Linked DNA regions of Homo sapiens: region 1 is linked to region 2. Evidence: fine-mapped expression QTL. Tissue or cell type: macrophages. Region 2 holds a variant in brackets; the other region holds the start of a gene. All regions are shown on one strand. Distances are from middle to middle.

Evidence for each region. PIP is the estimated chance that this variant, and not a neighbour inherited with it, causes the effect.
Region 1: it holds the start of CHD9, and the variant in region 2 is fine-mapped to the expression of CHD9 in macrophages (Alasoo 2018, PIP 0.95).

What each region holds. Positions count from the first base shown.
Region 1 is chr16:53,052,189-53,057,620 of GRCh38, forward strand. CHD9 (chromodomain helicase DNA binding protein 9) reads left to right here and starts at 2,803. Exons shown (of 39, transcript NM_001308319.2): 1 at 2,803-2,889. It overlaps CHD9NB (CHD9 neighbor), which reads right to left and starts at 709. Exons shown (of 3, transcript NM_001396020.1): 1 at 573-709. RefSeq lists enhancers at 3,097-3,628, 3,141-3,190.
Region 2 is chr16:53,818,664-53,823,663 of GRCh38, forward strand. The region is part of intron 2 of FTO (FTO alpha-ketoglutarate dependent dioxygenase); the gene reads left to right. Among named protein-coding and RNA genes, the nearest start is that of FTO, 120 kb to the left of the region's middle. The variant A/G (reference allele first, on the strand shown) is at 1,923.

The DNA.
Region 1 (5,432 bases), 770 kb before region 2:
AGCAACATAAAAAAAAAAAAAAACAATAAACCCCATCTCTTAAAAAAAAAAGAAATTAAAATTTAAAAATTAGCCAGGCATGGTGGCACATGCCTGCAGTCCCAGCTACTTGGGAGTCTGAGGTGGGAAGATCCCTTGAGCTCGAATTTGTGGCTGCAATGAACAATGATCACCTGGATGACAGAACAAGACCCCATCTCTTAAAGAAAACTGTTAGTGTCTAACACGTTATAAATATTTTATTATTGTTATTTACATACTTCAGCCTACCAAAACTCCTGTTTTCCATGGAGAAAACAGATCTGTTGATAACTCTGCAGTTTCCAGAAACACTGTGATTAGCAGAATGAGAAAAATGCCAGGAGAACTCAGAAGAGAAAGTCACTAGGAAGACTTAATCTCATCAGGTGATGCCAGAATCCAGAGGTTGTAATCTAGGACTTTGCCCAGGCATGCTTTGGGGCACAGTGGTGGGGAGGGAGCTGTTGCAAAGATGGGGCAAGAATGGTCTGGACATGACTCAGACACTTTAAAGTGAAAGAATGGGAAATTGTCTGGCAGCTGGTACTTACCATGGGCAGTCAGCACTCCTCTGACTGATTCACCTTCACCAGGGCACCAGCCTGCAGTGAAGTAGCTGGGGCTGGTTCCTTTTAGTGACACCCACCACCCCTTGCCCTTCCAGGTATTGTCCACAGATGACACCTCCTCCTCCTCCTCCTGCTCCTCCTCCTGCTCTGCCTCCTCCTCCTCCCCCTGCTCCTGCTTCTCCTCCTCTTCCTCCTGCTCCTTCTCCTCCTCCTCCTGCTCCTCCTCCTGCTCTTCCTCCTCCTCCTGCTCTTCCTCCTCCTCCTCCTGCTTCTCCTCCTCTTCTTCCTCCTGCTCTTTCTCCTCCTCTTCCTGCTCCTCCTCTCCTTCTGCTCCTCCTGCTTCTCCTCCTCCTGCTCCTCCTCCTCCACCTGCTCCTCCTCCTTCTCCTCCTCCTGCTCCTCCTCCTTCTGCTCCTTCTTCTCCTGCTCCTCTTCCTCCTGCTCCTGCTTCTCCTCCTTTCTCCTGCTCCTCCTCCTCCTGCTCCTCCTCCTGCTCCTCATCCTCCTTCTCCTCCTGCTCCTCCTTGTCCTCCTCTGCCCTTGATATTCACTTTGACCAGATTACACCAGTACAGAGAGTCCAAAGGTTAAATAGGCACACACTCACACACAAACTCACACTGGGCTAGAACAATGACAGAGCGTCCTGGGGGAGCAGAGTGGGGGCCGGGGGGAGGGGGAAAGGAGGATTGCAGGCCTAACTTTCACAAATCACCTGAAATTTCCACTGAAGGCATTATCTCCAAATGTTGCCACAGAGATAAACTGCCAGGATTACAAGAAAACGTGAAGACGTTCCCATAGAACTCTGTAATGCTTATATCCATCACCAGGAATGTCTGCCCTTGGCGCCCTAAACATAGATTGATTGATTGATTGATTGATTGATTTTGAGGCAGAGTCTCACTCTGTCACCCAGGCTGGAGTGCAGTGGTGCGATCTCAGCTCACTGCAACCTCCTCCTTCCGGGTTCAAGGGATTCTCCCACCTCAGCCTTGGAGTAGTTGGGATTACAGGCTCCTGCCACCACGCCCGGCTAATTTTTGTATTTTTTGTAGAGACTGGGTTTTGCCATGTTGGCTAGGCTGGTCTCAAACTCCTGACCTCAAGCGATCCTCTTGCCTCAGCCTTCCAAAGTGCTGGGATTACAGGCGTGAGCTACGGTGCCTGGCCCTAAATATAGATATTTTTAATAAATCCTCTACTTATCTCACAACGAGCTCAATCGCTTTGCATTAGATCGTTGGGTGTGTTAAAAGTATTCATGTGTTACATTAAATGTGAATTCAACAAAAGCAGAGATTTTTGTGTTTTGTTCTTCATTGTATCCCTTGATTGTAGAAAAGTGGCACATAGTAGGTGCTCAGTTAATCGTTGTTAAATGAAGACATAAATGAAATATAAACCATTAAATGTCCACCATATTTGTAAGCGTTTTGGCATGTCTTCATTGAAAGAATACCAGGCAGCTGGGAGCCATAGTTTACTCCGGTAATCCCAGTGCTTTGGGAGGCTGCAGGTGAGAGGATCGCTTGAGACCAGGAGTTCAAGAGCCACCAGGGCAACATAGAGAGACCTTGTCTCTACAAAAACAAAACAAAACAAAACAAAAAACAAAAAACACAATTCCCTTAAGCCGCCCCTTCCCCTTCCACTGCTCAGAGAAGGCCTTCCAGCAGAGCAGAGCACGAGGTCGCTGGCACACACCCATCCTCCACCAGTCCTGGCCTCTGTAGAGCAAGCCAGCAGAGCAGGCTGTTTCTCTCATTCAGGGACGGTTTAGGGGGTGGCAGGAAAAAATGGTTGCTGATAGGCGAAGGGCCTCCCTGGGTTGGAGAGAACCCCAGCCTCGGATGGTCCCAGCACATTTAAAAGAGAAGCAGTGCCAAAGGTGGGGTGCACTGAAAGCTGCTGGATGAAGGGAAAGATCCTTGTGCTCAGCCCGGAAAACCGGAGGATGGATACCAGGCCGAGGGGTCCCTCCGTGCCCCAAGAGAAAGTTCACCAAGTTTAGATCCCAGTGCCCCGCAGCGGGTGAAGGTGGTCCCGCCCCAGGCCGGATCTGGCCACAGGGCTGGCGGCGCGCTGGAAAACCGCCCACGTGGGAAGAAGCCCTGGCTGCATTTCCGCCCTGGACTGCGCTCCCGCCTGCCAGCGCGGTCCCTGCGCAGCCGCCCCGCGCCCACTAGGTGGCGCCTGCGCTCTAGTGGGCGCTTCACAGGCGCAGCGACAGCGACAGCGACAGCTCGAACCTGAGTCCCAGGATTCCGGGGACTGGAGGGCAGCGCCGGCAGCCAAGGTAGGATTCCTGAGCCCCGGGCGTCTCCCTGGAGCCTCTGAGGTCGGGGTGGACAGCGGGGCGGCCGCTGGGCACCGCTTGCGGTCTGCAGAGATAACCGGAGGAGTCGGGGCGGCAGCACGTGTTGTAGCCGTGGGGGGGACCCAGAGACCCGCAGCCTCGGAGCTGGGCCTAGAGCAAGGCAGAGCACCAGGTCGCTGGCACGCTCGCATCCTCCCCAGCCCTCGCCTCCCAGAGCATGCCCGAATCCCCAAGCCGGGCGTCCTCGAAGCGGAAAGCAGCCACTGTCGCCCAGAGCCACTCCAGGGTGGCAGCCGAGTGCTGATAAGGTCCAGAGCACCACTTCTTAAACTTGTCTGCCCGTTGGCGTTGCTTGGGAAGCATTAAAAAAATACCGATGCCCTAGTTCCACCCCCGCCCCCCCCCAGAGACTCAGATGTGATTGGTCTGGGTGGGGGACTGGACATCTGGGTATTAAAATGTTTGCAAGAGATTCCAGCTGGCAGCCAAATTTGAGGACCCTTGATCTAAGGAGTTGGAGAAAAACGGAGGACATTTGTTTGTTCTAACCCAGAATGCTGATGATTCCCTCCTCCTCCTATTCCTCCAGTTCGCCCTCCTCCTCCTTTCTCATGTGCCTTTTAAGCAGGAAATGCCTCTGCCTTTGTACTGTCAAACCCAAGATAACAAACTAACCATCCCCCACCCCCCACAGTAGGGCTGGTTCTGAAAGGGTTGAACTCGAAAGTGGACAAGGAACAGAAAGACACCAGTGTGGAATGTGAGCGAAGACTCTTAGGGGTTTATGGGTAGGAAGGGGGTTCCTCCCCACCCTGATCCCAGAGAAGATCAGGAGACTGGCTGGAGCTGTCTTCCTCATTTTGGCAAACCTAGCTGATTAGGCAGTGAGAGGCCTTATAACGAGCCTTTTTTACAACTAGTAAAAGGGCCCTTTTACAACTAGTAAAAATGAGCCCTTATGTTTGTTTGTTTTATAGAGATAGGGCCTCACTATATTCCCCAGGATGGTCTCAAACTCCTAGGCTCAAGCCATTCTCCAGCCTCGGCCTCCCAAAGTGCTGGGATTATAGGCATGAGCCGCTGCGCCCCGCTGACCCCTTATGTTTATATAACAGCAGTGTTACTAACATGGGCATAGATTCCCCCCCATAGGCAGCCCTTCCTTTGTGACCTTGGAAACTCACTGAACCATCCTCAGCTTCAGTTTTTGTATCTGCAAAATGGGTGTGAAAATCGGGTTGCCTTGGGAATTATTCACAATAAAAGCTACTGTTTACTAAGGGTTCACCCTATGCTAGAGGCTTTCTGTGCAGGGCCAAGTTAGACTCCTGACCATAACTTCCACGGTAGAACTATGAATACTGCATTTGATAGCCAAGGAAACTGAGGCTCAGAGAGGCCAATGATCTTGCTCGAAGTTATATAATTAATTAATAAGAAGCATGTCCCATATTTGAACCCAGGCAGTCTGCTCTTGAGCTCAGGTGCAAAAGAACAATACTCTGCTGTTTCCCTTGTTGACCAGGACAGCGTGCACGGGGCAGGCGCGTGGTGTGTCTTCACAAACACTAGCTATCACTGCTGTGAGCTGAGCACTTCCACTGAATTGACTCATTCGCTCATTGGAAATACATTTATTATTGAGAGCCTACTGTGGGCCAGGCAGTTTTCCAGATGCTAGAGATAAAATATGAGTAAGACAGAATTCAGCCAGCCCCGAATGAGAGAAACAGGAAGAAAGTGCAGTAGATTCTCATTATTCACAAGTTCTAAATTTGCAAATTCTTCCCTGTAATCCCAGCACTTTGAGAGGCTGAGGCAGGAGGATCGCTTGAGGCTAGGAGTTTCAGATCAGCCTGTGCAACAGAGCAAGGCCCTGTTTGCTTAAAAATTATACACATTGAATAATTCTTAAAAAAAATTTGTTTGTGGCCAGGCATGGTGGCTCATGCATATAATCCCAGTACTTTGGGAAGCTGAGGCAGAAAGATTACTTGAGGCTAGGAGTTCCAGATCAGCCTGGGTAACACAGTAAGACCCTATATCTTTATTTTAAAAATTATATAATTAAAGAATTTTTAAAAAAATATGTTTGTGGCCGGGTGTGGTGGCTCACACCTGTAATCCCAGCACTTTGGGAGACTGAGGTGTGAGGTTAGGAGTTTGAATTTAGGAGTTTGACACCAGCCTAATCACTTGAGCTAAGGAGTTTGAGACCAGCCTGGACAGCATAGAGAGACCTTGGCTCATTTAAAAAAAAAAAGAGGAAAAAAGGCCGGGTGCAGTGGCTCATGCCTGTAATCCCAGCACTTTGGGAGGCCGAGGTGGGTGGATACCTGAGGTCAAGAGTTCGAGACCAGCCTGGCCAACATGGCAAAACCCCGTCTCTACTAAAAATTCAAAAAATTAGCTGGGCGTGGTGGCAAGAGCCCGTAATCCCAGCTGCTTGGGAGGCTGAGGCAGGAGAATTGCTTGAACCTGGGAGGTGGAAGTTGCAGTGAGCCAAGATCACGCCATTGTAC
Region 2 (5,000 bases):
TTTTCTGTGAGCTTTTACATATGTACTGTTTTTCTTTTAATGAAACTGAGATCTCTTGTCTATCTTGTTACTAATTTCTTCTATGAGTATAGTTTCCTACTGACTTCCAAACAGTTAAGTTTGTTACTTTAATATTCCATCACGTGGTTGTACCATTTTCCCTTCTAAACCCTTCTTGGGCATTTTGGTGGTTTTCAGTTTTTAATTATTATCAATAGCAGTATGATGAATATTCTTATAATCTTGGTGTGTTTAATAACTTCCTTATGACAAATTCCTAAAAGTAGAATAACTGCATGAAAAGATATGGGCATATTTAGGTTCTGATAGATCTTGTCCAATTGGCCTTAAGCAACATTGTAATAATTTGCATTCCTAATTGCACGCTATCAGAATATTGAATTTTGCCATTATCAACAATATGTATTACTATTATAAAATGTTTTAATGCAAATTTGATAGACAGTAACTAATTTAAGTATAATACAAATTATATATTTTCCAACTTTGATACAGTTAATATTTATTTATTTATCTATCTTTGAAATGGGGTCTCACTCTGTGGCCCAGGCTTAGGCTCACTTCAGCTTCCACTTCCTGGGCTCAAGCCATCCTTCCACCTCAGCTGCCCAAGTAGCTGGGACCACAGGTGCATGCCACCACACCTGGCTAATTTTTTTGTATTGTTAGTAGAGAGGGGATTTCACCTTGTTGCCCAGGCTAGTCTCGAGCTCGTCAGCTCAAGCAATACACCCGCCTGAGTCTCCCAAAGTGCTGGGATTACAGGTGTGAGCCACCACGCCCAGGCAGTTAATTTTTTTATGTGCTAAGAGGCTTCTCTATTAATTTGCTTGTGAATGGGTGTGTGTGTGTGTATTTAAATTTTTAATGGTTCTGCATTAATGTTTCTGCATTCCTGCCATATAGGTTGTACTTTTTTTTTCCAGTTTGTTTGCCTTTTAATTTTATGATTTATTTTATACAAAAATTTAAATTTTCAGATATTCACATCTATCAATCTTCTTTTTCAAAAAGTTTATTGATTAACTGTATATGTGTATAATTTACATACCATAAAATGCACGTTTTGAAATTGTACAATTCAGTGATTTTTGGTAAATTTCCAGAGGCATACAACCATCATCACAGTAGTTTTAGAACATTTTTAGCACCCCAAAAAGATCTCTCATGCCTCTTTACATTTAGTTTTCTTTCCTGCCCCAGCCAAGATCTCCACTCATCTGCTTCAGTCTTTTAAAGCTTTTATTCTTAGAAAGGAGTCTTGAGCACTTATGTGGAACCAAGTGATGTGGCTATAACAGATACTAATGCTATTTTCTTCTTCTTCTTTTTTTTTTTTTTTGAGATGGAGTCTTGCTCTGTCACCCAGGCTGGAGTGCAGTGGTGTGATCTCGGCTCACTGTAACCTCTACCTCCCGGGTTCAGGTGATTCTCCTGCTTCAGCCTCCTGAGTAGCTGGGATTACAGATGCCCGCCACCACGCCCAGCTAGTTTTTGTATTTTTAGTAGAAACAGGGTTTTACCTTGTTGGCCAGGTTGGTCTCGAGCTCCTGACATCAGATGATCCAGCTGCCTCGGCCTCCCAAAGTGCTGGGATTACAGGTGTAAGCCACCGCTCCAGGCCACTAGTACTATCTTCTTTTAGGAGCTTGTGATCTTACAGGACAGATTATTAAACTAATAATAGTTTAAATAAATATAGTTACAAATAGATAAGTGCTACAAAAGAGAAGTAAAGCGTGGGGAGTGATAACAGAGGGCACCTATTTGAGGGTGGAGATTCAGGAAAGGTTTCCTTTTTTTTTTTATTATACTTTAAGTTTTAGGGTACATGTGCACATTGTGCAGGTTAGTTACATATGTATACATGTGCCATGCTGGTGCGCTGCACCCACTAACTC[A/G]TCATCTAGCTTTAGGTATATCTCCTGATGCTATCCCTCCCCCTCCCCCCACCCCACAACAGTCCCCAGAGTGTAATATTCCCCTTCCTGTGTCCATGTGATCTCATTGTTCAATTCCCACCTATGAGTGAGAATATGCGGTGTTTGGTTTTTTGTTCTTGCGATAGTTTACTGAGAATGATGATTTCCAGTTTCATCCATGTCCAGGAAAGGTTTCTATAAGAAAATGACCCAGGGATGGGAAGGACCATCCAGGTGTGGAGTTGGGGGAGGAGCCTGGGGGAAGTATTTAAGAGCTGGACACTTGAGGACTGCAGGAATAGAAGCACATATGGTCAGAGAGAAAGGGGACATGATCTGAGTGGGAAAAAAATGGAATATTTTCCCATGCCATTATTTTCTTTTTATGCTGTTTTTTATGTCAAGGTATTTACAGATGATATTTATGTGGTTATATGTTTTTCCTGGTCTATAGGGTTATAATTTCCCCATATTAAATATATCTTATGCAGTGTTGAGACCCAGTGTATGTTGAATAAGGGCAGCAGAATTTTAATGGGGGGTGGGCAGGCGTTTGTGCATATGAGTGCATTATTTTCAGTATTCCTTTCTTAGTCCCAGAGGGGAGTGTGTTCAGAAACAGAGTTCTTGGGAATTACCATACTTTTCTTTATTGTTTTATACTAAGGACCATTCAGAGAGTACTGGAGGTGTTAAGACAGTGTGAAGAAATTACCTTCTTCATCACTTCTTCATCATTGCTTTGAGTATACTGGGGCCTCAGGGACTTGCTAAGAAAGTAACCAGTATAGTGATAGAATTAGAGTTGCTGCTCATGGCTTCAGAATATTTGGTCTCTGCTTACAGGATTGCATTGCTTTCTTCATAAGCTATGTAAATAGAAAGTACGATATCACTGTTTCTGTTTTCCAATGGGGATAACTAAAATATGGAAACTCAATCCTTAATGGATCCCTGACAATCTCAATGACAATCCATAGTGGTATGCCACATGACTCTTCTCTTTGTCACTTTCAATTCATGGTCAACACCTCAGATAGGCATTTTGAGAAGCAGGGCAGTCCTACCACACTTACCTAGTAAAGTCATTTTTTCACATTCAGACTTGACTCATTCATTTTTCTTCTGCATACTTCCTCCCACTTTCTGCATGTCTTCTATAATATCTCCTGCACTCTGCCTCATTCAGAACAGGCTAGATTATGCTATAGTAACTGATAACTCTCAAATCTCAGTGGCTCCACACAATAATATTTCTTGTCCATTTTATGTATCATTTGTGGGTTGGCACAGAGTCACTACCCATTAAAGTAGCTCAGAGATCCAAGCAGCCACCAGCTGGTTGCTGTGGCAGAGGGGTGCAGAGTATGCTGGAGGGTCTTGCAGTGACAATGACATGTTCCAGGCTGGAAGGGATGGCCATCATTTTTCACTGGACAGAAGTAATCCCATGTTTCATCCATCCTGAGGGGACCAGGAAGTGTAATTTTACACTGGGCCCAAAAAGCTGGGTGGCAGAGGAGGAATCCAGAACTATTTGGCAAACAGCTCTAATGACCAGCATACATTCTTAGCTAGTGATTCACCTTAACTTCATTGAGAAAGTCAGAGCATTCTCTAACTACCACCCCTCCAAAAGAAACCCTAGAACGTACTCATCTGCCTACTATTATTACATTTATCATCCTATCTGAATTCATACCTTCTTTTTCCTTCTAGCCTATTCCAATATAAGAAGTATCTTCTCTCCTATCCACATATTTTTGATCACATACTCTTATCAGTAGATAAGCACATACAGTGACATCCTAGAAAGTGTTTAACAAGTGGCCTGTAGGGGGAAAGAACCAGCCTTGATTTTTAGTGTTTTTTGATTTCCGCAGTGTAAATACTCTCACTGTGGACAGTTTCAAGCCACCGTCACGGTGTTACTGAATGTGCAGTTGGAAAGAGATGCACACAGTGGGCTCTCATGAGCCAGTGTGGACTGACTCCAGCACACCACCAGTAGTGTGCTGGTGGTAGTACTCATGTACTCGTGTCTGTTTTATAATAATATTCATATTAAACCTATTTGTGTGTATATGTGTGTGTGTATATATATATATGCATACATATTTTAATAATGCTTGAGTTCTTTCATTTTATATTAAAAATAAAGCAGTTCTACCTCTCCCCTGTGCCCCACCACTCTTCCAGATGGCCTTACAAAGCCTTGCATACCTGACTTGGGGGCTACTGCTCTAGACACTCAAGGTCTCGACTTCTTTGGTTATTCACTCTCTCTGCATCGTCAGCCTCTTTCTCTTGTATCATTCTCATGAGTGTACTGAGAAACTCTGGTGTTCTCTAGCGTCTTCCATCATTAGAGATTGTCCCTTAGTCTAGCCTTCTTCTTTATCAAAAGCTCCATTTTTCTACTCCCCTTCATAGCAGAACCATTCAGAGACATCTCTACATGCCATCTCACTTCCTCCTCTTTCATTCCATCTTCGCCTACTCCAATCTGACTTTCACCCCCAGCACTCTACTGAGATTGCTCGTGTCATTGCCATCAGTGATTTTCATGCTGCCAAATCTACTGGATCATCTGTCTTCATCTCACTTGGCCTCTCAGTGTCAGGTGACATAGTTGAGTACCCCGCCCTTCTAGAAATGCTCTCCTCTTTTAGCTTCTGCAATAATACACTCTGCTGGTTCTCCTTTGTTGAGGCTTCTGCTGCGACTCAGGAAATAGCTTTGGTCTCCTTTTGATATTTGTACTGTTTCCCTAGGTGATCTCATTCATTTCTAGGCCTTTAAAACCAAGCTGTGTGCTGATCACTCCCACATTGCGTTCCTCTGCCCTGCTTTCTCTTCTGAGCTCCAGATGTGTACATCCAATTCCCCTCCCCCCGCCCACCATATTTTCACCTGGAGGTTTCATAGGTATCTTCAAGGCTGCAGCTCTACAGTGAACTCTTCATTTCCCCCTTTTCTTCTTTCTACTATTTCTCTTTTGCCTCAGTTTTCCTTATTTCACAGAATAGTAAATTGTTTATTTAGTTGTTAAATCCA